Linked DNA regions of Homo sapiens: regions 1 and 3 are each linked to region 2. The links come from fine-mapping of genetic effects on gene expression. A gene starts in region 2. Each other region holds a variant in brackets. All regions are shown on one strand. Distances are between the middles of the regions. Region 1 overlaps KAT6A (lysine acetyltransferase 6A). Region 2 holds the start of KAT6A (lysine acetyltransferase 6A). Region 3 overlaps KAT6A-AS1 (KAT6A antisense RNA 1).

Region 1 (8,181 bases), 94 kb before region 2:
TTTTGATGGCATTATTTATTCTTTCACTGATAACTAGTCTCCTCACACCTGTTTCTAATGAAAATCTCATCAGAACAAAAGCTACATTTTCAATAAATCCTTTAAATATCTATCTTAAAAGAAAACAGTTTATGATTCCATTCTCATCATTCTCTTGAACAAAAGTAAATGCTAGCCCTCTATTTCCATTCCTGAATCTATTTCCTCTCCCCACCTTGAGTAGACAAGGGGCCTGTGGTTTCCATCTATCTGTACTATAGTCTCCGGAACAGTTGACAGACATGTGGAAAAGCTTTCTTTTCTAAGTTGAGTGCTCTTGTGATTTGGGCAGCTTGCAAAGAGCTCACTTAAAAAATGATCATAACAACTTATTTTAAACCTGATGAAAAAATTAATTCCTTGGCATATTTATTTTCTTTTCTTTTGAGATGGAGTTTCGCTCCTGTTGCCCAGGCGAGAGTGCAATGGCGCGATCTCAGTTCACTGCAACCTCCGCCTCCCAGGTTCAAGCGATTCTCCTACCTCAGCCTCCTGAGTAGCTGGGATTACAGGCACCCACCACCACGCCTGGCTAATTTTTATATTTTTAGTAGAGACAGGGTTTCGCCATGTTGGCCAGGCTGGTCTTGAACTCCTGACCTCAGGCGATCTGCCTATCTCGGCCTCCCAAAGTGCTGGGATTACAGGCGTGTCCTTGGCGTATTTCTTCTCGGTCATAAAAGATCTTGGCTATTCAGAATTCCTGAGGAATGAGTTAACTTGAACGCTGAGTTCTGTAGGTAGTTGAGGAAGTTCCTGCCTTCCTTTAACATATATACATATACAATACATACATGTATAATATATATGTATAATATGGAAATGCAAATACAATGTAACCTTATCTTAAAGTCACATTAATTGTTGTCAGCTCATGAAACAGTGTGCTTCCTTAAAGATACACCACAGTGTTTGGGGCTAACTGATCCCACAGTAAATGGCCCTCAATTGCTGTGTTTCATGAGCTTGTGTGTTAGTTTCCTGGGGTTTTGCTTTTTCTTCTGTTTTTGTTAGCTGTCACTTTGAGGTCAGTGTCTGAAATGGCATTCTTACCCCTATTTTTCTACTTCGACTGTAGACTAGAGAAGCAAGTTATTATATGGAAAGAAAAAGTAAAAAGATAAATAAGTTTTACTGGATGGCCCTTTTAACAACTATACTGGCCTATTCCTAGTTTCTTGGCAACAACCCATGTTAAGGCACTCAACATATTGTAAGGTACTAAATAAATTTTGCTAATATTTTGGCCAGGCAATGTTACTACATGGGTGAAAACTTACATGATGAGAATATTCTGAACATGTATTTAACCCACAAAGCACCATGATGTATTATTTCTTGTAACACCCTACTAAATGGGAAACTGAGGCATAAGTAGTTTATAGATTAGAGAGCATTAATGTCACTACAATTAACTAGTATTTAATTTTTTGATCTCATTTCATCTTTTAATTTTAACCATAAAGAAAAAATATAATAACTGACATTATTGAGCACTTACCATTTTCTAAGTGATTTACATGTTGTAGCTCATTTAATGTCCTCAATATCCCCACGAAGTAAGTACTATTACTATCTCTGCTTTACAGATGAGGAAACTGAGGCACAGAGCAGTTGGGCAGCTTTTAAGGTTACACAACTTACCAATTTCAGAGCTGAGTCATGAAACCACTTTAGCTCCACCAAGCTGGTGAGTGATCAATGTTTATTAATATATCTGGAAGCCCAAACTATTTATATATAATTTTTACACCAATTGTCCAATTATTTCTGGGAAAACAAACCATTTATTAAGTTTGTCAAATTATAAATATTTATTTACATCAAAGACTAATCAACTGAAACTTTATATTAATTTATATATGAGTTCTTCTCTTTTTCAAAATTCTTAGTGATAGGAGTGAAGACAAATTTCTCTTAAAAAAAAAATAAAAAAGCATTCCCCTTTTATTGTGACCATGCATTCGGGTTTCTCATTTTAAACATCAGCGTCTGAGAGGTTACAGAAGAGAACATCTAAAGCAAACTGGGATGAAGTGGCTGCCAAAGCCGCTGCTATTATGGACATTTAAAAGCCCCCAGTTTCCTCAAATGTAAAGGATAAGGTGGACTCAAACATCTTCAAGATCCCTTCCAGTTCCAGACTTCTATGGATCTCAAAACAGAAGGTCAAGGGTCTCTCAAAACATACCTTGAGTATTCTTGAGGATATGGGGAGGAGTACCAGGTGTGAATTTCATACTTCCCAAACTCAATGACAGAGGGACAGCGGACTTGTGGATCAGGGGGACCAGTCACTCCAACTTTCTGTGCAGTCAAGAAATACATTCAAAAGTTAGCTAAATTAGACACACTGAGATAACAAAGAAAGTTCTGAATCTAAATGTTGTCTTCTCAGGACTCCAAAGGAGTAAAACAAAAACAAAAGCCAGAACAAGCTAACATATTTTGAAATAAGTTATATTATTCCTTAAACAGAGCACCCAGATGAAAAATAAAAATGCTAATAAATCTCTTAGAACCAAATGCATTGGGTGTTGCTGCATTTCTACATTTAATAACAGTAAAAATATTTTCCTCAATTAAACTCACTCTTAATGACTTAATATTAAAGAGAAACTGCTGATACTTGGTGATATAAGATAAAGAATAATTTACAAGTGAGGGAGGGGGACACTGCATATTTGCTGAAGTCCTACCACACTGCCTCCGCTGACAACAATGGAGATGCCCTACTGAATATGTAAGCACACAAAGGATGATTTTTTAGTTTGGGAAAGTAGATATTTAAGAGAAATACAAAAAGAATCTGACAAAACAAGTATCAAGAGAGTCTTCATTTCATACTATGCCTAAAATTCCCTTCATTAGTAGCTCTGCATAGATTTAACCAAAGAAAGACACTCTGTTATATACAGACCTTCTCTTTTTTCTGCCTTCTCTTTACAATGAAAACAATCTCTATACCCCTCATCCCTGCAATAGTCTGAACTACATTATCTAAACAGAGAATAATTTTTAAAGCCTTTATGACTTCCCTGACTTTCCAGATCAGAAATTCAAACATAAGTACGTAGCTCAAGAAAATAAAGGCTGTTAAGGGTCTTAACATGTTAACTCAAGGGCAACATGACTTGCTCTGCACCCAGTCTAGCAACAGATGCATATACACACTCATGTCCATGTGTGTGAGTGCAGATATATCATGGATGCTCTACAAATACTAACTGACAAGAAAAAGACAAAAGAGTTTAGCCTAACCAAAAACAAGCATTAATAACTCTTCCCCAAAAGGATAACTGAAATTATCCTTCAATTTTATGCTTTAAAGACCACTAAGAGACTAGTAAAAATCCCTTGTTGGAGCATGCAGACACACATACATATTTTATAACAAAACTAAAAGAAATTTTTATTCATTGGTTTTATATAAATCCGTTTAAAGAAGCCTCTTCACCATAACTCATTAGAGACCTTCTGGTCTTTCTAACCATTCTCTTTTATAAAAGGCCAAGGGACTTATCTCAGGTTTCATACTGGAATGTAGCCAAATGAAACCTCAAGCTCTTCCTTAGACACCTCAAAACAAAAGACAAAGATCTGTTTGTGGGATGAATTGTGTTATAACACCACCAAGTACTGGGGCTCCTCCAAATACAAAACCAAAAACAATGAAGAATACATAATACAGGGTTAAAATAAGATTTCTTTCATTTCTCAAAACCCAAACAGAACTTTGTAAAAAGATTTTTTAAAGGCTGTTTTTAAACTACATTCTAGAATCAACTACTCTAACTCATAAAGTACTATCTTTTCATCTATCTTCACAACTCAAAGTAATAACAACAGTATAGGAAACTTTCAAAATAACTAAATACCAGAAACCAGATCTAACTTCCTGAGGCAAGGATCAGATAGAAAGCCCAAAAGCTGAAGTCATGCACCTGCTGCGGCACTGTCTGTTGTTTGAGGGTCTTCCCATCAGCTGCCCGCTGCTCTTCTAGGCGGATGCCCGATGTGAAAGTGGATATCCAGTTCCAGTACAGCTGTTTGCACATCACCACAACTGCGCACGTC[T/C]GTCCAGAATGGGACCTGTGGTAGGTTCCCCTCTGCCCACACCCGCCTTTAACCTTTGCACCGTGAAACGTTCCTGCACATGCGCTCATGTGTGAGCCCGCCTCCACTCCCAGCTCCCCTGAGCAAGCCTCCACAGCAAGGGTGTTTCCTTTTACGAAGATTTAGAAATCAGCAAGGCTCTCTACACAGGGAGGAAGAAATGGCTACACAGAAACCACTCATTCCAGTCCTAGCCAAAATCAAACTGTCATATCTGAACTACAAGGTTACCTTTGCTAGGTCTTTTTATTTTAACATTTCAACCAAAGTACGTTTTCGCTAAACATGTGACTTTCCAAAGCAGCAGGTGTCTAATATAATCAAGGGCACAAAATATATTTAAATGTTTAACTCAAATTCTGCCACTTCATGTCCTCCTAATTTAAATATGCCAAATTATTTAAAAGAAGACGTATGTTCCAGGCTAGAATTGACCTTTTAATCTAAGATAACTAACAGGGGGTAGCAAGGGGGTGGATTAAATACACTAATAATTGGGCTAAACCAAAAGAAAACTTTATGCCTACTGCTAGATAATAAAGCTTTTATTACCACCAGTTTATATGAAAAGAGTATTACTCTTCTACAAAAACTTAAGCTTCAATTAAATGACTCATCTAATTCCAGTTTGTAACATAAAAAAGGCCATTCTTGCAGTATCCCCAACTCTGGATCTGGTAGGGACACCAAAATTGTGTAAATAATTTAACAATTTCTGTAAACACAGAGCTGCTGCCTTCCCCCATCTGTCCACTGGAGCGCTCTCACTTGCCCTTCCCTCTCCATTCCCCAAGGGGGTGCAATGTTTTGAGGAGAGAGGGAGGTACCCCTTTATTATCAGTGTGAGGCTGGGAATGTGGGGAGAAGAGATGGCTTTCTGGCATTTGAACATTTTCCCACAGAAACACTACAGTAAGTAATTCCATTCATTAGGGATTAAAAGTTACATGATGAAAGAGGTATGAAAGAATGAATTCACATGCTCCACAACAGAGAGAGCATGAATTTAAGGACTAGAGAAAATCATGTTCGTGGAGCACCTATTGTGCTAGACTCTGACCTGAGCCTTATGTCGTTACCTCCTTTGGTCCCCACAATCCATCCTTCAAAGTAGAAAACAATATACCCACTCTGCAGATGAAAAAATAAGCCTCAGATAAGCCTCAGGTTAAGAGGCAAAAGCACCGGGCAGGAACAGCGAGTGAAGCATAAAGACAGAAAAGAATGACATGGGTTGAGATGTGACGGAAGTAACGACAGCCCTCAACTAATTCCTCCCTAAATTCCCAAAGTTTATGGGTAAGTTTTTAAAAACGGGAACTTGGTTTTCCAAAGAAATGAAGCTACAAGTCCACAAACTTTTAACCCAAAACCCTTGGACTGGAGTAGAATGTGTTTTGGAATTCTGAATTTTTCTGATTTTAGAAAAGTATTAGTACATATATGTGTATAGTACATGCATGTGTATAGCCCTAGTAGGATTTGGAGCAGCACTCCATAATCAGACACACTAAAATTTCTTTAGCAAAGCATATGAATATTCACATTAACTGGCATAAGTAAGGAATACAAATAGTCTCACATCAGCTCAGATCATGTTTTTGTCAGTAACTCAGTTCAGGTCAAGTGGGACTTTATTGCAAAATGAGTTAGAAAAGGCCGGGCGTGGTGGCTCACGCCTGTAATCCCAGCACTCTGGGAGGCTGAGGTGGGCGGATCACGAGGTCAGGAGATCGAGACCATCCTGGCTAACAAGGTGAAACCCCATCTCTACTAAAAATACAAAAAATTAGCTGAGGAGCTTGGTGGCGGGCACCTGTAGTCCCAGCTACTCAGAGGCTGAGGCAGGAGAATGGGGTGAACCCAGGAGGCAGAGCTTGCAATGAGCCCAGATCGCGCCACTGCACTCCAGCCTGGGTGACAGAGCCAGACTGTCTCGAAAAAAAAAAAAAAAAAAAAAGTTGGAAAAGTTTCTTTCCATTCTCCAAAGAAGATATACAGATGGCCAATAAGCTCATGAAAAGATGCTCAACATCACTAATAATTAGGAAAATGTAAATCAAACCACAATCAGATACTACTTCACACCCATTAGGATGGTTATTATTTTTAAATGCAAAACACCAGAAAATAACAGATGTTGGTGAAGATGTGGAAAAATCAGAACCCTTGTCCCATTGCTGGCGGGAATACAAAATGGCACAGCTGCTGTGGAAAACAGTATGATGGTTCCTCAAAAAAGTAAACAGAATTACCACATAATCTAGCAATTCCACTGCTGATTATAGACCCCACAGAACTGAAAGCAGTTCTTTGTATATGGGTATCTATTTGCATACTCATGTTCATAGCAGCACTATTTACAACCCAAGTATCCACTGACAGATGAATGGATAAACCAAATGTGGTACATACGTACAATGGAATATTCTCCAGCCTTAAAAAGGAAGGCAATGGTTGGGCGCTGGTGGCTCACGCCTGTAATCCCAGCACTCTGGGAGGCCAAGGTGGGCAGATCATGAGGTCAAGAGATTGAGACCATCCTGGCCAACGTGGTGAAACCCCGTCTCTACTAAAAATACAATAATTAGCTGGGTGTATGGCACATGCCTGTAGTCCCAGCTACTCGGGAGGCTGAGGCAGAAGAAACACTTGAACCCGGGAGGCAGAGGTTGCAGTGAGCCAAGATCGCGCAACTGCACTCCAGCCTGGGCAACAGTGCAAGACTCTGTCTTTAAAGAAAAAAAAAAAAAATACAAGGAAGGCAATTCTGACACAGGCTAAAATACATATGAACCTTGGGGACATTATGCTAAGTGAAACAGCCAGACACAAAAGGACAAATATTGTATAATTCTACTTATGGTACCTAGAGTAGACAAATTAATAAAGGCAGAAGACAGAATGATGCTTACCAGGGGTGGGGGTAGGGGTGGGGGGTTGGGAGTTGTTTAATGGGTACAGAGTTCCAGTTTTGCAAGATAAAAAAGTTCTGGAAATAGATGATGGTGATGATTGCACAACAAGGTGAATGTCTTTAATGCCACTGAATTGTACACTTAAAAATGGTCTGGTTAGGCCGGGCGCAGTGGCTCATGCCTGTAATCCCAGCACTTTGGGAGGCCAAGGCCGGCGGATCACGATCGAGACCATCCTGGCTAGCAAGGTGAAACCCCGTCTCTACTAAAAATACAAAGAATGGCGAGAACCCGGGAGGCGGAGCTTGCAGTGAGCCAAGATGACGCCGCTGTACTCCAGCCTGGGTGACAGAGTAAGACTCCGTCTCAAAAAAAAAAAAAAAAAAAAGTCTGGTTAAAATAACTTTTACATTATGTATATTTTACCACAATTATTTTTTTTCAAATTTTCAGGACTCCTTAAATTTCAGGATTCTGGATATTGTGACCTATCTTTCCCTTTTCCTAAGCCTTTTTGCTCTACACTCAGACTTCTCTTTATCCATCTCCTTTGCTAATTCTTTTACCATTAAATATTGACAAAATCTAGAATTCTGTCCTCGGCCATCTTACCTTTTCCATCCGGAGGACCCATAATCCAGTGCTTCCATCAGCTTTCCACTCTCCCCACACCCTCCTTTCTCTCTACGCAGCTTAGATTCTAAGGTCTTTTTCCCTGTAATTCCACCCTTTGCATAGACCTTTAACTCTCTAGTTTCTCTTCTAATTTCACAACAAAATCCTAACCCCTGTTAAATTCAACTCTTCACATAATCGAAGTTATTACCTTAATGTGAATATGGGTGGAGAAAAACAGAGAATCATGCTACCCAGTCTCACATTATACACCTACCCACAAACCTCAAGCAGGTCCTGATGCTTCCTACTCCATTCACTCTCCCGTTCTGAAAGACAACTGCACCCTTTCTCCTCTGCTCAAGCCTCCAACACTGCTTACTCCACCTTCACTTTCAGCCAATGCTTTTGCTTCCTACTGCACTAAACTGGACAAAATCAAAAGAAAACTTCTGCAATTTTTCCCACCCACATCTGTCTGCCTCCACCTTTG
Region 2 (8,181 bases):
ATACTAGGTCAATGTAAAAAACAGGTACTAACAAAATTCTCCTAATCTCCAAATATCTATTTAAGCACCAAAATTTACTGTTTAAGAAGTCATAATTTCAACTATATACAATAACATCCTAAAACACAACAGAGTAAAGTACACATCTGGGCATCAAAACTCCCAACTCTCCAGAACTTTACCTTTCTTTTTGTTTTTAGAACAGGGTCTCAGTTGTCCAGGCTGGAGTGCAGTGGTGACAGCATAGCTCACTGGAGCCTCAGACACCTGTACTCAAGCAATCCTCCCCGACACAGCCTCCCAAGTAGCTAGGACTACAGGCGCGCCCATACCTGGCTAATTTTTCTATTTTTGGTGGACGTGGGGTCTCGCTATATTGCTCAGGCTGGGCTCAAACTCCTAGGCTCAAGACATCCTCCTGTCCCAGCCTCCCAAAGCGCTGGGATTACAGGCATGAACTACTGTTCCAGACCCTCCAGAACTTTTCTAGTTTAGGATACTGTATTCCTGTCCCATGCAACTACAGCTGTCATAAATAGCATTTAGGACTTCATCATATGCAAAGCCATAATACATGACAGAAAGCTATAATACAAACAGCAGAAACAAGAATTGCTAAGTTTGCTTAGTTGCGCCTATGGGTCATGAGAATCTGTCTCATTTCTGTCTAACGAGTAATCTGCAACAAAATGGAAAACAGAAAAATGTTCTCAGAGTCATCTGCTTGTTTCAAATTCAAGTCTCCATGATTTGGCTGCTCATCAACTTCCAGTAGTAAGGTGTTCTAAGAACCTTTAGTTAAAGTTTTAAAGTCTCACGCTGGAGTACTCCTCAAGCAAAATAATAAAAAAAAATTTAAAAAAAAGTTTTAAACTCATATGTCACTTTTTCATTGTAATGTAAATAAGTTCTTTTAGTCAGATTAACATTCTACATTTTTAATCTTAGGCTTCAAATATTTCAAAGTACCAGAACAAATCTATGAAGCTCTCATAGCTACAACTCACCAATAAAAAACCAGAGGTGATCACTCCACAGAAGTCCCCAAACAAAAAACTTGAATATAACTTCCCAGAAATGTGAATTTGTAGCATCCTATATCATCAGCTCTATAAACCCCGAAGCATATGCCATTCTTACCTTATCCTTTTCATGTGGAAGAAGGGACACTGGAGGTAAACAGGAAAGAGACTCACAACTCTCTTTCCCATCCACGTTGGTTGCTTTAGTGTTGAGCCGATAAAGAGGTCCATCTTTAAGGAGTCTGCCGTGGCCAATGGCACGTTTGATAGCCAATCGTAACTGCTGGTGAAAGCCAGAGGCAGCACTGCCTCCGAATAATGCAGACACATCCTTCTGACCTTTCAAAAAACGTTCAATGCTTTTCAAAGTTGAGCCACCAGACTCTGCCAAGCCCTCAACTGCCCGCTTTATCAGTTTATTCCAATCCACATTTTGTTTATTATCCAATTTTCCATGGTTCCGAGGCTTAGGAAGTGCTATTCGCCCAGGATTATCAGGATCTTTATAGGAATTGAGTCCTTTATTTGAGACTTTTAAAATTGTTCCATCTTTAACACTCAACTCCAATTGTTCTAAAACAGTTTTACGATCCAAGCCATGGGATGAAGACACAGCATTGCATATCCTTTCTTCTGAAGGACGCTGTTTCTGCTTTTTCACTTTTTTGATGGCCTCCAAAATCCACTCAGTATAAAGCGGGTTTGCGAGTTTTACCATGGTGAAGGATTCTGTATATCCATAGAGTCGTTATCCCTTATCCTGATGCTGAGTAAGTTTTACACCATGGAAAACAAGATTCTCGGAGGCTGGGAACCAGTTAACCATAGCATATGAGTTTTCTGGCCTAAGTCCTTCCTCCTTTCACAAAACAGAATGCCACCCCAATTGTACTATAGAAACCAAAACAACCTGTTGATTGAAATGTCTTCCAACTTCCCAATGAATTTCTCAATAGCACCACACATGGGTCTCGTCATAAAGTTGTAAGAACTCAAGAATATTTCATTCCCGGCTCCAGAGCAGAAAAATGTGCATCTTATGCCTGAAAAGCAATGAAAATAAGGTCAGTTTTCTACCAAGACCTATTTCGAATGAAAATAAGCATCCTCATCATAAAGCAATCAAACAGCAAGTGTTTACTAGGCACCCTTAAGAATTTCCAAACTTATCTATTAATATTCCAAAACAATCATGTATGTAAACCATTGGGATAAAAAAGAAAAAAAAAGAAAAGAAAAAAAAAAGATGAGTAATTAGGATACAATGAGGAAACACGATGACATGTTCTAAGAATGACCTTTAAGCTACCACTAACCAGAGTGGGTGATGGCTATTCTGTACTCCGCAATCTCTGCTCACCAGTCTAGGAATTTCAACTCTTCCTTGACATCTTTCCCCAAGAAACTAGTCAGCACTTCAACAAGTATCTGGATTAGTAGAAAGAATCCTGCAATGAAAGTAAAAGTGAATCTTTCATCTTTCAAAATTCTAGACATTCAGAGTAGACAAAAACAGTCAATAAGGCAGAAAACGACTGAGAAAATTTTAGTTCTTACATGAAAAGAATGAATACAATATGCACACCCAGTTTATAATTTAAGTACAGTATTACCTTAATCTCTCCTAATGGAAACAAAAATACTATTGAAAATAGCCTAGAGTAAAAGTGCTTACTGAATTTAACAATAATCCACTTTCATTCAAATTTTAAGAATTACATGCTGATAGCTTCTCCTAACCCAAACTAAGATGTTTCTATTCATATGCTGAAGAGAGTCACAACTGTCAAACTGCGTGTAAGTAATTCAGACAGGAAAACTAGAAATGAGGAAGGCCCAGAATCACTGGGGTCAACGCACATACTACATATCAAACGGACGGTACAGAAAAAGAAATACACTGGCTACTTGTAGGACTAAAGAGAAGCCCAAATAATAAAGATATAAATTCAAGATTGCTGTCCTGAAACGAACATTAATAAAACATAAACAGAAATGTACTGTCTCTCTGAATCAAAGTCAGTATCCCTATAAAAGAATCTGGTAGATGCAATCTTGTTTAATCACTAAAGTACTGAATTCTGAATCTAACTCTTTTGCCTCCAAAAATAAGTTTAACTGAAGTGTTTTTTAGAACTTCTGCTCTCATTCTGGAGATCATTTGCATTACAATATAAACAATGCTAGACAAATGGCTCCCACAGCAACTATTCTTGGTAGTGACATTAAAATCAAACGGAAAACTAATACACACTAGGAAAGAGATATTACTATTAACTCTGATAGGAAAGAAAAGAGTGAAGCAAACATTCAAACCTGAGCCAAGATTTGTTTTTAAATCAGCTGCCTAAAAAGAAGCCCCCTGGGAGAATCATGCTTCAATTTGGTGAGGGTCTCAAGAGGATAGAAATCAGAGTATCATTACTCCAAGTAAGCTCATTATACAGATATTAAGTCTAAACTAAATGAGAAGCTACATCCTGAGTTTAACAAGCTGGGAACGAACGTCCTAATTGACTAAGCTTCGCAGGTAAAAGAATGAGTGACAGTCACTCATTGTCTTTCCAGTCGGGATTGTCATCAGTCTCCAGGTCTTCGGAAAGTCAAGCGCCTGCAGCCTCGGATCTTAACTCCCGGAAAGTACACGAGCGGCTAGAGCGAGCGCAACTCGCTTCCGACAGTCCTTCCCGTCCCCATTCCCCACCCCTAAACACGTCTTCGCGCTCTCTTTTCAAAGAGCGAGAAACTTTAAAAACTTGGATCTGCACAGCCCGGCAGCTCGCCGACGGGGCGCTGCACCGTTTCCACGCGATGGAAACAGACCCCGAGCACAAGTTAACAATGAAATCACGTGAAGGAGTTCAGAGCGGTGCATAGCCCCGGCCCAGCTCCGCACCCTAAGCTCTGGGGGCCGGCTCGAGGGCGGCGCGGGTTGCTGGGAGCCTGACAGTCGCGCACCGGGCCAAGCCGCGAGGTTGACAGGCGCCCGGCCTCCCCTCGGCGGCTGGGCTGACAGCCCGGCAGACACAACACCACACGTGCTGCGCCTCGCACCACAACACCCGCCGGCCTGTCAGCCCCGCTCGCCGCCTCAGCCCCGCTCGGATCCCCGCGCCCCCGGCCGGAGCCAAAGCCGGAGCCGGAACCCGAGCCCGAGCCCGAACCCGAGCGCCCGCGAGCGCGGGGAGAAGCGGCCCGGCCCGGCACAGCCGGCACGCGCGCGGCGGGCGGGTGGGCGCGCCCCGAGGGAGAGCGGGCTCGCCGGCTCCGCCAGCCCGAGGCTCCGCGGCCTGGGCCGCTCGCCGCCCGCCCACCCGCCGGCTCCCCCAGGGCGGGCCCGGCCGGCGGGATCGGGGGCGCGGGGCCCGCGAGCGCGGGGCCGGGCGGCGGCGCGCGGGCCGCGGGCCGGGGCAGCCGGGCGCCGAACAAGCGAGCAAGCGAGCGAGCGAGCGGGCGGGCGCGAGGGGGCGGCCACGGCGCCCCAGCCCGAGGCCTGGCGCAGAGCAGCGGGAGGCGGCGCAGGCCGCGGCGGGGCCTGCAGCGGCCCGCCGACCCCGCGAGGCAGCGGAGTGGGCCCTGGAGCGGCTCGGCCTCGGGCTGGGCGGCCGGGGGCGGCCGGGAACGGCCCCTCGGCTACTTACCGGGAGGAAGGACAGCCGAGATCCCGGGGCCCCGGGCCGGACCGCGGAGATGCCCCAAACTGACACGGCCGCCATCTTGGAGACAGTGAGCTCCAGCCGGGGGGAGGGGAGGCAAGGCGGCGGAACAGCCGCGGGGGGAGGGGAGCGTCGCGAGGGAACGGCGGCCTGGGGGAGGGAGCTGGAAGAGCCTGGGCGGGCGGCGAGGGGAGGCGGAGGCCCGGCAGCGCGGGTGGGGGGCGGCCGAGAGCGGGAAGAGCTGGGCCGAGAGCCGGGAAAGGCCGGAGGGCGGGGCGGGGCAGCAGGGAAGAGCCGGCCGGCGGGGTCACGTGGGGCCGGTACAAAAGGCCAAAGCCAGGGGAGGAGGAGGACTTGGTGGGGCTGGAGGCTGGGGAGCGGGGGTTCCTCCTCTCCCGTCTCACGCGTTTAAGTCAGACGGCGACCCGGGAGAGGAGGAGCTGGTGCACCCCATGCCACCGCTGGGGAAACTGAGGGCAGGAGTCTGGGTGGGGTGGCTTCAGTGTGGCACGGAAATCCGGCAGCCACGCAGGATGGGAACTCTCGGCGGCGTCTGTTTACAGTTAGTGAGCCCTCCCTCCCCACTCATTTGCCTGCACAGCGACTTTCCGGAGCCCGAGGGCGGGGCCTGGGGGGCGGAGAGGAGGCGGCTTCCCGTCCTCACCCCTGGCAGCTCGCCTCAGCCCCCGACGGCTCTCCTGTGTCGGTGGGAAGAGTTGGGGAGAGGGTGGAACCAGAAGCACCCGTCTTAACCCCTTTCAGCAGTGACTTCATTTCTTCCCTCCCCCAGCAGCTGAGAGGGTTCTTGGAGCTCACTAGAGCCATTTTATGGGAGACTCCACAGACCTGGGTCGTGTGACTTGGACAAGGTCACACAGCTAGTATGTGGCGCGCACCTGAGCCTGGGACTGAGATTTGTCTTATTCCAAAGCCGGTCTTCCCTTCTTGCCCTGTGCGGAACTCTTGTCCATACTTAGGGCGTTGGAACCACGAGCAGGCGGTTCTTCATGGCCTGCCTGTCCACTACTGGCTGTATGGACGTTTCTTTGTCTTGCCTTTCATCTACTTTAAACTCTTTGATGCAGAGACTGAGTCATACTTTTTTTTTTTTTTTTGAGACAGTGTCGCTCTGTTGCCCAGGCTGGAGTGCAAGTGGTGCGATCTTGGCTCACTGCAACCTCCGTCTCCTGGGTTCAAGCGATTCTCCTACCTCATCCTCCTGAGTAGCTGGGACTGCAGGCGCCCGCCACCACGCCTGGCTTATTTTTGTATTTTTAGTAGAGACGGGGTGTCACTATGTTGGCCAGGCCGCTGGTCTCGAACTCCTGACTTCAAGTGATCCGCCCTCTTCGGCCTCCCAAAGTGCTGGGATTACAGGCCTGAGACACTGCACCTGGCCAAGTCATGCATTTTTTTTTTTTCTGCATTCACTAGAAAGACAGTAGACATGAAAAAGACACTAAATGTTTAATCGTTGACATGGACGTGTATCCTGCTGCCTGACCTTTATCTGCCCTGTCCCCAACCCCATACGACACACCCCGCCTAGACTGTCGCCCGCAATACCTCATTTTATCTCAGCTTTAGCTTTTAAGGGCCTCCCTCTCACCCACTGCCTTAACTTCCATGCTGACTTCCTTTTCTGAACTTCTGTAGTAGTATCATTTGCTCTAGTCATTTTGCACTTACATGTGATATATATATATATATATATATATTCCGAATACATTCACTGGTAAATGCTCTCCTATAATGACTCTGCATCTCCAGCACCTAGAATAATGTTGTACAAGTACTGTAGTAGGCGGTTTAAAATAAAAAAATGTTGCTCGTGAATGAACAATTTTTTAAGCCGTTAAGAAAGCCGTTTGTGGCGGGGCGCTGCTGTAGCCCAGCTACTCGGGAGGCCTGCTTGAGCCCGGGAGTTCCAGGCTGCAGTGAACTATGATCGCCACTACACTCCAGCCTGAGAGACACAGCAAGAGGGAACCCAAACTTTTCTATCTATCCCGTCTCCACTCTAATCCATAGCCCTACCCTCCATACGGTAGACTCTGGACCATTCAGTAAGAATAACGTAACTTTTCAGATCATGGTCCAGCCTAATCAATATCCTGACACTGACAGAAACAGAAGTGTAATGTAGTGAGGTTGACTGAGTTGCCATTCATCGCCTACTTCCAAGCCCCATCTCCAAAGCAGTAGAGAAATTTGGAATACATGATAATCCAATAGAAAGGATCTCTTTCATCCTAGATGAATCAGATAGACACATTCTCAGGTAAAATGGTCCCTGTTTGTAATGAAATCACCTCCAGGAAAAAAAAAAAAAAAAAAAAAAAAAAAAATATATATATATATATATATATGTATTTTCTTTTAGTAGAATAGGCAGATTTTTATTTCCCAAAGAGGGCAGATAAAGTCATATTAATGCAAAGACAATGAGTTCTTCATGTGAGACTAGAGTGTGTGGCCTTCAGAAGAAAAATAATACAGAGATGAGTTGTGTTTACTTTTGGATAATTTGGAAGAAAACTAGCCACAGCCATCCTGTGAAAAGACCAAACTGGGGATTAAACAGTAGCAAGAATTTAAAACAATTTATAACAACAAAGCACAGTTGAGCTTTTCACACAGCTTCCATAAAGAGTCTCTGCTTTACATTTGCATAACTAAATGGCACATTCAGGAGGTCTTCTCAAAATAAAAATCTTGCAACAAAGACGGATTAAAGTCCTCATCATTTGCAAGTTAAAAAGCAATCTGCACTCTGAAAGGATAGTTTTTCTTAGCTCAAACTTTACTCACGATTCAGCCCTGTGGAGCTGGCAACTAAAGGTTATTTCCCCCTTGCATATTTTGCTCTAGGAATCCCTGCCTTTTCACTTGTACTTGGTACTTGTGTCTTATACAGAGTCCATGCCAGCCTGAAATTGGAAGTTTGCTCTGTCCTGGTTTCAACAGGAAACATTTTTAGTCCATTTACATTTAATATAATTACTGGTATATGTGGATGTATGCCTACCATCTTACCATTTATTTTGGATCACCTATTTCACATTCCTTGTTCTCTGCTTTTTGCCTTCTTTTGAATTAATTAAAATATTTTAACTATATCATTAACCCCCTCTATTAATTTTTAAATTATACATTACTAGTTTTAGAGATTACAACATTGCTTTTTGACTTATGATCTTATACAAAATAATTACTTTTACCACTTCCCCGGGAATGCTAAGACATTAAAATACTGTATCTCCACCTACCCATCTCCCTTTTGTGTTTATTGTCGTCAAGGATTTTAATTGTGTGTGTATTTTAAGCCACACAAGAATTTATACTTATTGTTCTGTACAATAAGTACTCATTTAGATTAACCTCCATATTTATCCTTATATTGCTCTTCATTCCAATATGCATTTCTGTGCTTCTGTCTGAAGGTTTTCCTTCTATTTGAATAATTCCCCTGTTTTACAGCAGGTCTGCTGATGACAAGTTCT
Region 3 (8,181 bases), 53 kb after region 2:
TCACTTGAACCGGGAGGCGGAGGTTGCAGTGAACAGAGATTGTGCCACTGCATTCCAGCCTGCACAACAGAGCAAGACACTGTCTCAAAAAAAAAAAATACAGAAAATTAGCTGGGCATGGTGGCACATGCCTGTGAGGAGGCTGAGATGGGAGAATCACCTGAGCCCAGGAAGTGGAGGCTGCGGTGAGTCGTGATTGCATCACTGCATTCTAGCCTGGGTGACAGTGAAAACCCCGTCAAAAAAAAAAAAAAGGTATTATTATGCATCAAGCAGCATTTGCATGCTTTACATATATGGATTACTTGTCCCTATGACATAGAGACTATTATCAATTGCCAACTTATAGATGAAGTTAATCAACTTCCCCAGGACACAGAGCCAGCGTTCTAACCCAAACAGCTGCTCTTGACCAGTGTCCTTGCTCTCCCCGCCTGCCCAGTGCTGCCTCCAGCAAGCCTTCATGCCCACTCCAGGCCTTCGTGCATTCTTGTTTGTCTGTTTGTTTATATTTGAAAATGTCAGGAATTTCTTTCCTGACACATCGTTAAAGGTCCCTTGCATCTTCTTGCTTTCTGGGTATCTTTGCTTTGTGCTATCTTAAAAACCTTGGAGCAAGCGTATTACACATAATTCTACATACAGATTGACAGATGCCTCCATGAGTTAAAGGAGAGAGACAAAAAAATAAACAAGAGCTTAACACTTCTCATGGTTCGTTAGCACAAAATTACATTTTGTGCATTTTTTCAATGGCGAGATCATAGGGGATCAGTTCCTGCAGTGGCATGTGCGTCAGGCTTCAATCACAGATTAGAAACTGCTCTGGGTATCTTAAACAGAAAAGGAATTTAATCCAAGGAATTAGATGCTTACAGAAATGTTTGCAGTTGGAAAAGCAGGCTTTAGGCTGGACCTCTAGGAATGAGTCTCAGAATGACAGGGCCCAAGTGACCCTCTGCTTTTCCCGTAAGTGGCCTAAGTTAATCTCTGAAAATGGTGCATTACTCACTTGACCCAGAAAACTCCACAAGATTGCACAAATCCAATCTTTGTGTTCACTTCAGGAATACCAGTGAAACTGCCCAAGCCACCAAGGCTTTACCTATACCAAAAGCTACCCAGTATCTGAAAGATGCCGCAATATAGAAGCAATGTGTGCCATGCTGCCTTACCATGGTGGAGTTGACAGCAGTGCCCAGGCCAGACCGTGGGGGTAATGCAGGGTCAGTGGCCCAAAAAGAGTGATGAATTATTGCTGTCCCAAGATGCAGAGAGTAATGCTGACCTTAAGAATTTGTATGTAGATTCTCTAGTCATTGAGCACATGAAGGCGAACAAAGCCCCCAAGATGCCTATCAAACTGAGAGAGCTCACGGTCAGATGAGCCTCTTGACATTCTGAGATGACCCTTCCTGAAAAAGAACAAATTGTTCCTAAACTGGAAGAGGAGGTAGCACAGAAGAAAAAGATATGCCAAAAGAAACCAAAGAAACAAAAAGTTATGGCTCAGGAATAAATCCAGTAACATAAATGCAAATAAAAGTAAACTGCCTGGCCGGGCACGGTGGCTTACACCTGTAATCCCAGCACTTTGGGAGGCCAAGGTGAGAGGATTACCTGAGGTCAGGAGTTCGAGACCAGCCTGACCAACATGGTGACCCGTCTCTACTAAAAATACAGAATTAGCTGGGCGTGGTGGCACATGCCTGTAATCCCAGCTACTTGGGAGGCTGAGGCAGGAGAATTGCTTGAACCCGGGAGGCGGGGGTTGCAGTGAGCCGAGATCACGCCATTGCACTCCAGCCTGGGCAACAAGAGTGAAACTCCATCTCAAAAAAAAAGGAAACCACCTGGCTACTTCATCATTACTGGAAACTTTTGGAATCAGGACACCACCATGCAAAACGCAGGCTCTAGGACAGACATGGTTGACATTTGGGACAGGATAATTCTTTGTAGAGGGGGCTGTCCTGTGCATTATAGGATGTCTCACAACATCACTGGCTTCTACCCACTAGATACAGATAGCACACCCTCAGTCACAACAATAAGAAATGTCTCCAGGCCAGGCACTGCGGCTCATGCCTGTAATCCCAGCAATTTGGGAGGCTGAAGCCGGAGGATCACTTGAGCCCAGGAATTCAAAACCAGCCTAGGCAACATAGGGAGACTCCATCTCTACAAAAAAGTTTTAAAAGTTAGCCAGGCATGGTGGCACGCACCTGTAGTCCTAGCTGCTCAGGAGGCTAAGACGGGGAGGATTGCTTGAGCTGGGGAGTTTGAGGTTGCAGTGAGCTATGATTGTACCACTGCACTCCAGCCTGGGTGACAGAGGAAGACCCTATCTCAAAAAAAGAAAGAAATGTGTCCAGACTTTGCTAAATGCCCCCACTGGGAGCAAAATAGCCCCTGGTGGAGGATCTCTTGTATAGAGCATCATAAGCTTAGCCTGTCGGGAGTCCCGGGGGGCTGCTACCATATTGCTTTCACAGATTTTGAAGATCAGGAACACACTGCCTTGGCTGTGTCCTGTAGATCAGCAACACCACTGCAACAGTCAGCTCCAAAGCCGTGCTGCACCTGCTGCAATTCACACCCACGAAACCAATGCCTGCTGCCTTTCTTCCCACTTGACTCAGTTGCATATCCACTTCTGAAAAAAGAGGCATCTGATTGGTGGAAACTGAATCCCATCCAGACCCCCAGCTGCAAGGGAGTCTGGGAAGAATCATGTTTTAGCTTTCCTGTTTTTGCAGTGCAAGAAGGTACCCTAGAAGAGAGGTTGAAATAAGTATTGAGAGAACCAATCTACCGTATCGGCTATGGCATGTCAACTTTTTGTTCTTGTCAAATGAAGCGGGTAACGTGGGAATGTTAATCTATTTGAATGGAAGTGTTTTGAAAAGAAAGGTGGGCGGGGTAGAACAGCCTACCAGTGTCTATCATCAGGAACAAGATACTTTCTAGCATATCGTATTTTATACTCACTGTCTTAATCAGTCGTCTAAACATTAGCAATTCTACCCTGTGATTTCATTTTACATGTGTAAATGTCTTGTCTCCCTAAAAATTTGCAAGTTCTTTAAGGTTAGGACTACTCCCTTCTTTTATTATTATTATTATTATTATTTTAAGACGGAGTCTCACTCTGTCACCCACACTAGAGTGCAGTGGTACAATATTGGCTCACTGCAACCTCCGCCTCCCAGGTTCAAGTGATTCTCCTGCCTTAGCCTCCTGAGTAGCTGGGATTACAGGCACCTGCCACCATGCCAGCCTAATTTTTTGTATTTTTTTTTTAGTAGAGATGGGGTTTCACCATGTTGGCCAGGCTGGTCTCGAACTCCTGACCTCTAGCAATTCACCCACCTCGGCCTCCAAAAGTGCTGGGATTACAGGCTTGAGCCACTGGGCCCGGCACTCCCTTAATTCTTGAGCATAGTTATAGGCATATTGCCGATATTCTGTAAGAATTATTAAACATTCTTTAAGTTGCACTAACCATCAGAAACAGAGTCAGGAATACTTCTAGCCACCACTCTTTAAACAGGATTTGAGAGTCCCTTTCCTATCTGTTAGGATCATTTTTAACTCTCATAACTTGGAATCTTTATGGGATCTTTAAAATACCAGTTGTTGTCATAGAATCTGAATTGAGAAATATGTTGGGGGTTAAGAGTTTAAGAATTTTTAAAAATACATTTATCTTAAATATGTATTGCTATTTCTCCATTTCCAGTCACCATGGAGCAACCAGGGCCGCATTTACCCTTCCACCTGAAACAACAGCAACCACAAAAAACAGACATAATATACAAAACATTGGTTTTCAAGATGCTGGACATCAGGTAATGAAGGACAGTGACTCCTGTGAGATAGGAGGGAAATGAGCTGACCCTACAATTGCCTCAGCCTGTGAGGGTTCCCAGGCCAGGGCACAGGCAAGAGAGACTGAGGCAGAGCCCAGGGGATTCCCTGGGTCAGGGAGACGGAGCTGAGAATGGAGAAAGGCCACAGGGACTAAAGTTCTTGGGGCAAAGTCCCAAAGAAGAGAGAGCTGCGTGGAGAGAGGGAGAGAGCTCAGAGATCTGCAGAGGGTCTTCCTGAGCCTTCACTGAGTGCTGAGCAGTGCGGATGTGCCAGGGAACGATCAGACGCTGGGGACAGAACCACCCAACAGAATTCAAGATAAGAGTGCTCAGTGCTGACACGGGACCAGGACCAGGGTCTGTTTCCACCAGCCAGAGCAGAAGCCTGAAGAGTCCCAGACACCAGGGAGGCTTCCCAGAAGAAACTAGCCTCAGCAGTGAGGAATAATTAGCCTAGACTGAGCACAGCGCCAGAATCCCCCACCAAATCATGACAGCAACCCGAAGGGATTGAACTGTTTCCAACAAACTTAACTGCATCGCAGAACAAAGCACACAATTATTTATAGGAACACAAACATATCCAGCACCCAGCGAAGTAAAATTCATGGTGTCTGACATCCAATAAAAAATAACCAGTCATGCAAAGAAGGAAAATATGACCCATAGTAAGGAGATAAATACATCAATCAAAACTGACATAGAACTGACACAGAAGCCAGGATTAGCAGACAAG[GACATTAA/G]AACAGTTATTATAACTGTGTTCCATATGTTCAAAAAGTCAAGGAGAGACATATTTGCCTTTTTGCTTTTTTTCTCTGCTGAATAATTCTGTCCAAAAACTAAGATCACGGAGGCTCAAGTCGATCTGCCTGGTTCAATTTCCAGCTCTGAGACTTACAGGCTCTCATACAGTGTAGCCGGGGCTGGGGCTGGACACAGTGTCTGAGCTCTGGCAGGGTGAGGAGGTGCAGGTATTAGGAGACAGAGCACACACCCAAGCGTGGCCTGATTCAAAAGTAAATATGCATATTCATGGCTGGGCGCCGTGGCTCACGCCTGTAATCCCAACACTTTGGGAGGACGAGGCGGGTGGATCACTTGAGGTCAGGAGTTTGAGACCAGCCTGACCAATGTAGCGAAACCCCATCTCTATGTGGTTTGTAAAAATACAAAATTTAGCCAGGCGTGGTAGCGAATGCCTGTAATCCCAGCTACTTGGGAGGCTGAGGCAGGAGAATCGCTTGAACGCGGGAGGCGGAGGTTGCTGTGAGCCAAGGTCACACCACTGCACTCCAGCCTGAACAATAAGAGCAAAAATCCTTCTCAAAAATAAAAAAATACAAAAGTAAATATACATATTCAGAAAAATAGGAGCAGCTTTCTAGGGATCAGAAAAGGGAGATACAAAATGAGAAGGGAGAAATTAGACTGAATTAGAGATATTGGGCTTTGCATGGTGGCTCACCCTTATAATCCCAGTGCTTTGGGATGCTGAAGTGGGAGAATTCCTTGAGCCTAGGAGTTTGAGACCAGTTTGGGCAACATAGTGAGACCCGGTGTCTACAAAAAATGTAAAAAATTAGTTGGATGTGGTGGCGTGTGCCTGTAGTCCCCGCTACTTGGGAGGCTAAGGTGGAAGGATCGCTTGAGCCCAGGAGGTTGAGGCTGCAATGAGCTGAGCTCATACTACTGTACTCCAGCCTGGGCATCAGAGTGAGACCCTGTCTTAAGAAAAAAAATTAGAGATATTGGTGTGAGCTCATGGTTTTCAGTATATACAGATGGATAATAAAATAAATATAGATGTTGATGTGTGCACACGCACACACAGAGACACACACATTCCCCGGCTCTGTCCACCAAGCAGATCTAGGGGCAGCCTCACCGTCACCCTGACATGGAGACACTTCTGATTAGAGGTCAAAGAAGAGATGTGTCCAAAGAGGAGAAACCTCAGATCCAGTTATAACTTGGTAGTTTCGGGCAGCTTTTCTTCAAAGAATGTTTTTAATCTTTATAAGTCATAAAAACAAATCAAGTATGTCAATAAACACTACATTTCTACATTCGAAAAATTATTTTTATATACAGTAGCTTATTTATTGCATAGACAAATCATAGAAAAGTAATTACAGGCTTTGGGTTAGTCTTGGGATCCTATTTCAGCTCTAACATTCACTCACTTTGTAACTCTTGGGAACCACGTGATCTCTCTGAGCCTCAGTTTCCTCAAACATAAAACAAATATATTTACCTTCATAAGGTTTTATATTTTTAATTAGATTGTACAGATCCCCACCATGCATGGCATAAAGTAAATGCTCAGCAAATGATAGTTATCAGCACATTTGCACATGGTGTAAATTGGGCAGGTTTTTTTTGTTGTTGTTGCTTTTTTTTTTTCTTTTTTGAGATGGAGTCTGGCTCTGTCACCCAGGCTGGAGTGCAGTGGCACAATCTTGGCTCACTGCAACCTCCACCTCCCAGGTTCAAGCAATTCTCCTGCCTCAGCCTCCTGAGTAGCTGGGATTACAGGCACCTGCCACCATGCCTGGCTTTTTTTTTTTTTTTTTTTTTTTGTATTTTTAGTAGAGATGGGGTTTCACCATGTTGACCATGCTGGTCTCTAACTCCTGACCTCAAGTGATCCACCCTCCTCGGCCTCTAAAGTGCTGGGAATATAGGCATGAGCCACCACACCAGGCCAAATTGGGCAGTTTTTTCTGATTTTAGTTTAACGGGAGAAAAAAGACAAAGGTTGGCAAAGACGTCAGAGCAGAACATATGAATTCAGTTAACTATTTATTTATTTATATTGAGATGAAGTCTCACTCTGTCGCCCAGGCTGGAGTGCAGTGGCTTGATCTCAGCTCACTGCAACCTCCACCTCCTGGGTTCAAGCCATGCTCCTGCCTCAGCCTCCTGAGTAGCTGGGACTACAGGCACCCACCACCATCCTCCCAAAGTGCTGGGATTACAAGTGTGAGCCACCATGCCCAGCCACAAATTATTTATAAATAGAATATGCATGGAGGGAGGAAGACCTTCCAGAGGCAGGGAGAACAGGAGCAAATCCCCGGCGTGGGCAGTAGCAGGAGATATACAGGCTATACTGGCTGGGGCTGATGGTGGCAGAGGTGCAAGGAGGCACGAAGGAAGTGAGGATCCAGAGGATCTGTGCCAGGTTATGTGGGCTAAACTAATACAGGCTGAACTAAGCCAAAGAACTTTGGCCCGGCCAGGCACGATGGCTAACACCTGTAATCCCAGCACTTTGGGAGGCTGAGGCAGATGGATTGCTTGAGTCCAGGAGTTTGAGACCAGCCTGGACAACATGGCAAAAGCCTGTCTCTACGAAATTTTTTTTTTTTAAAAGCCATGCACCTGTAGTCCCAGCTACTCGGGAGGCTGAGGCAGGAGGATCACTTGAGTCCCGGAGGTCAAGACTGCAGTGAGCCAAGATCACATCACTGTACTCCAGCCCGGGCAACAGAGTGAAGCCCTATCTCAAGAAAACAAAACAAAACAAAACGAAACTTTAGCCATTATTGTGTTGCATGGACTCTCGTATTCATGATTTATAGCCCACTAGACCACACTTTGTCTAGATATCTCTTCATAGAGAGCAGCCTCTGATTTAGGGCAGTTATTCATTAGATTGTGCTGTGTCCAAGTCAGGAGCCCCCAGCTGCCCTTGGTTTCACGAATGAACACGACTTTTTGTTGTTGCTTGATGAGGCGTATTTAAGAGTGGGGAGCTATTGCTAACATGAGTAGAAGTTCTGTACATGTAAACTCCCTGGGGTGTTTCCCCAAGATTCACCGGCTGGGAAGATCCTGATGGGCAGCCTCTCCATAGGGGGACACATGCACATCTCAAGCACTCAAGAGGAATTCAGGCTCAGGGGACGCAACGCATGTCAAGAAAAGTATATGGTTCCAAAAAGGCTAAAGGAACTGGAAGTATTTAAAGATGGAATGATTTCAGGCAATAAACTCCCTCCCACCCAAACAACTAAGCAAGTAAAGGAATAATGTAAAGAGGGTGCTTGCACACCTCTTGCCCAAAATCTCAGAGATTCAAGATTTTGACATTTCTCCTTTTTTTTTTTTTTTTTTTTGAGACAGAGTCTTGCTCTATTGCTCAGGCTGGAGTGTAGTGGCACGATCTTGGCTCACTTCAGCCTCTGCCTCCCAGGTTAAAGTGATTCTCCTGCTTCAGCCTCCCAAGTAGCTGGGACTACAGGCACATTCCACCACACCCGGCTAATTTTAGTATTTTTAGTAGAGATGGGGTTTTGTCATA

The links. PIP is the estimated chance that this variant, and not a neighbour inherited with it, causes the effect.
Region 1: its variant is fine-mapped to the expression of KAT6A in whole blood (TOPMed, PIP above 0.99).
Region 3: its variant is fine-mapped to the expression of KAT6A in whole blood (INTERVAL, PIP 0.93).

The regions. Positions count from the first base shown.
Region 1 is chr8:41,953,066-41,961,246 of GRCh38, forward strand. It overlaps KAT6A (lysine acetyltransferase 6A), which reads right to left. Exons shown (of 17, transcript NM_006766.5): 9 at 2,231-2,346. Among named protein-coding and RNA genes, the nearest start is that of KAT6A-AS1, 95 kb to the right of the region's middle. RefSeq lists an enhancer at 3,923-3,972. The variant T/C (reference allele first, on the strand shown) is at 4,117.
Region 2 is chr8:42,047,238-42,055,418 of GRCh38, forward strand. It overlaps KAT6A (lysine acetyltransferase 6A), which reads right to left and starts at 4,750. Exons shown (of 17, transcript NM_006766.5): 1 at 4,664-4,750; 2 at 1,141-2,065. The coding sequence starts at 1,740. KAT6A-AS1 (KAT6A antisense RNA 1) reads left to right here and starts at 4,513. Exons shown (of 2, transcript NR_136589.1): 1 at 4,513-4,748. RefSeq lists silencers at 3,844-4,313, 4,414-5,043, 5,234-5,393, 7,354-7,648 and enhancers at 4,842-5,363, 5,364-5,884.
Region 3 is chr8:42,100,322-42,108,502 of GRCh38, forward strand. KAT6A-AS1 (KAT6A antisense RNA 1) reads left to right here. Exons shown (of 2, transcript NR_136589.1): 2 at 3,743-4,666. It also overlaps the pseudogene RPL17P30. Among named protein-coding and RNA genes, the nearest start is that of AP3M2, 49 kb to the right of the region's middle. The variant GACATTAA/G (reference allele first, on the strand shown) is at 4,609.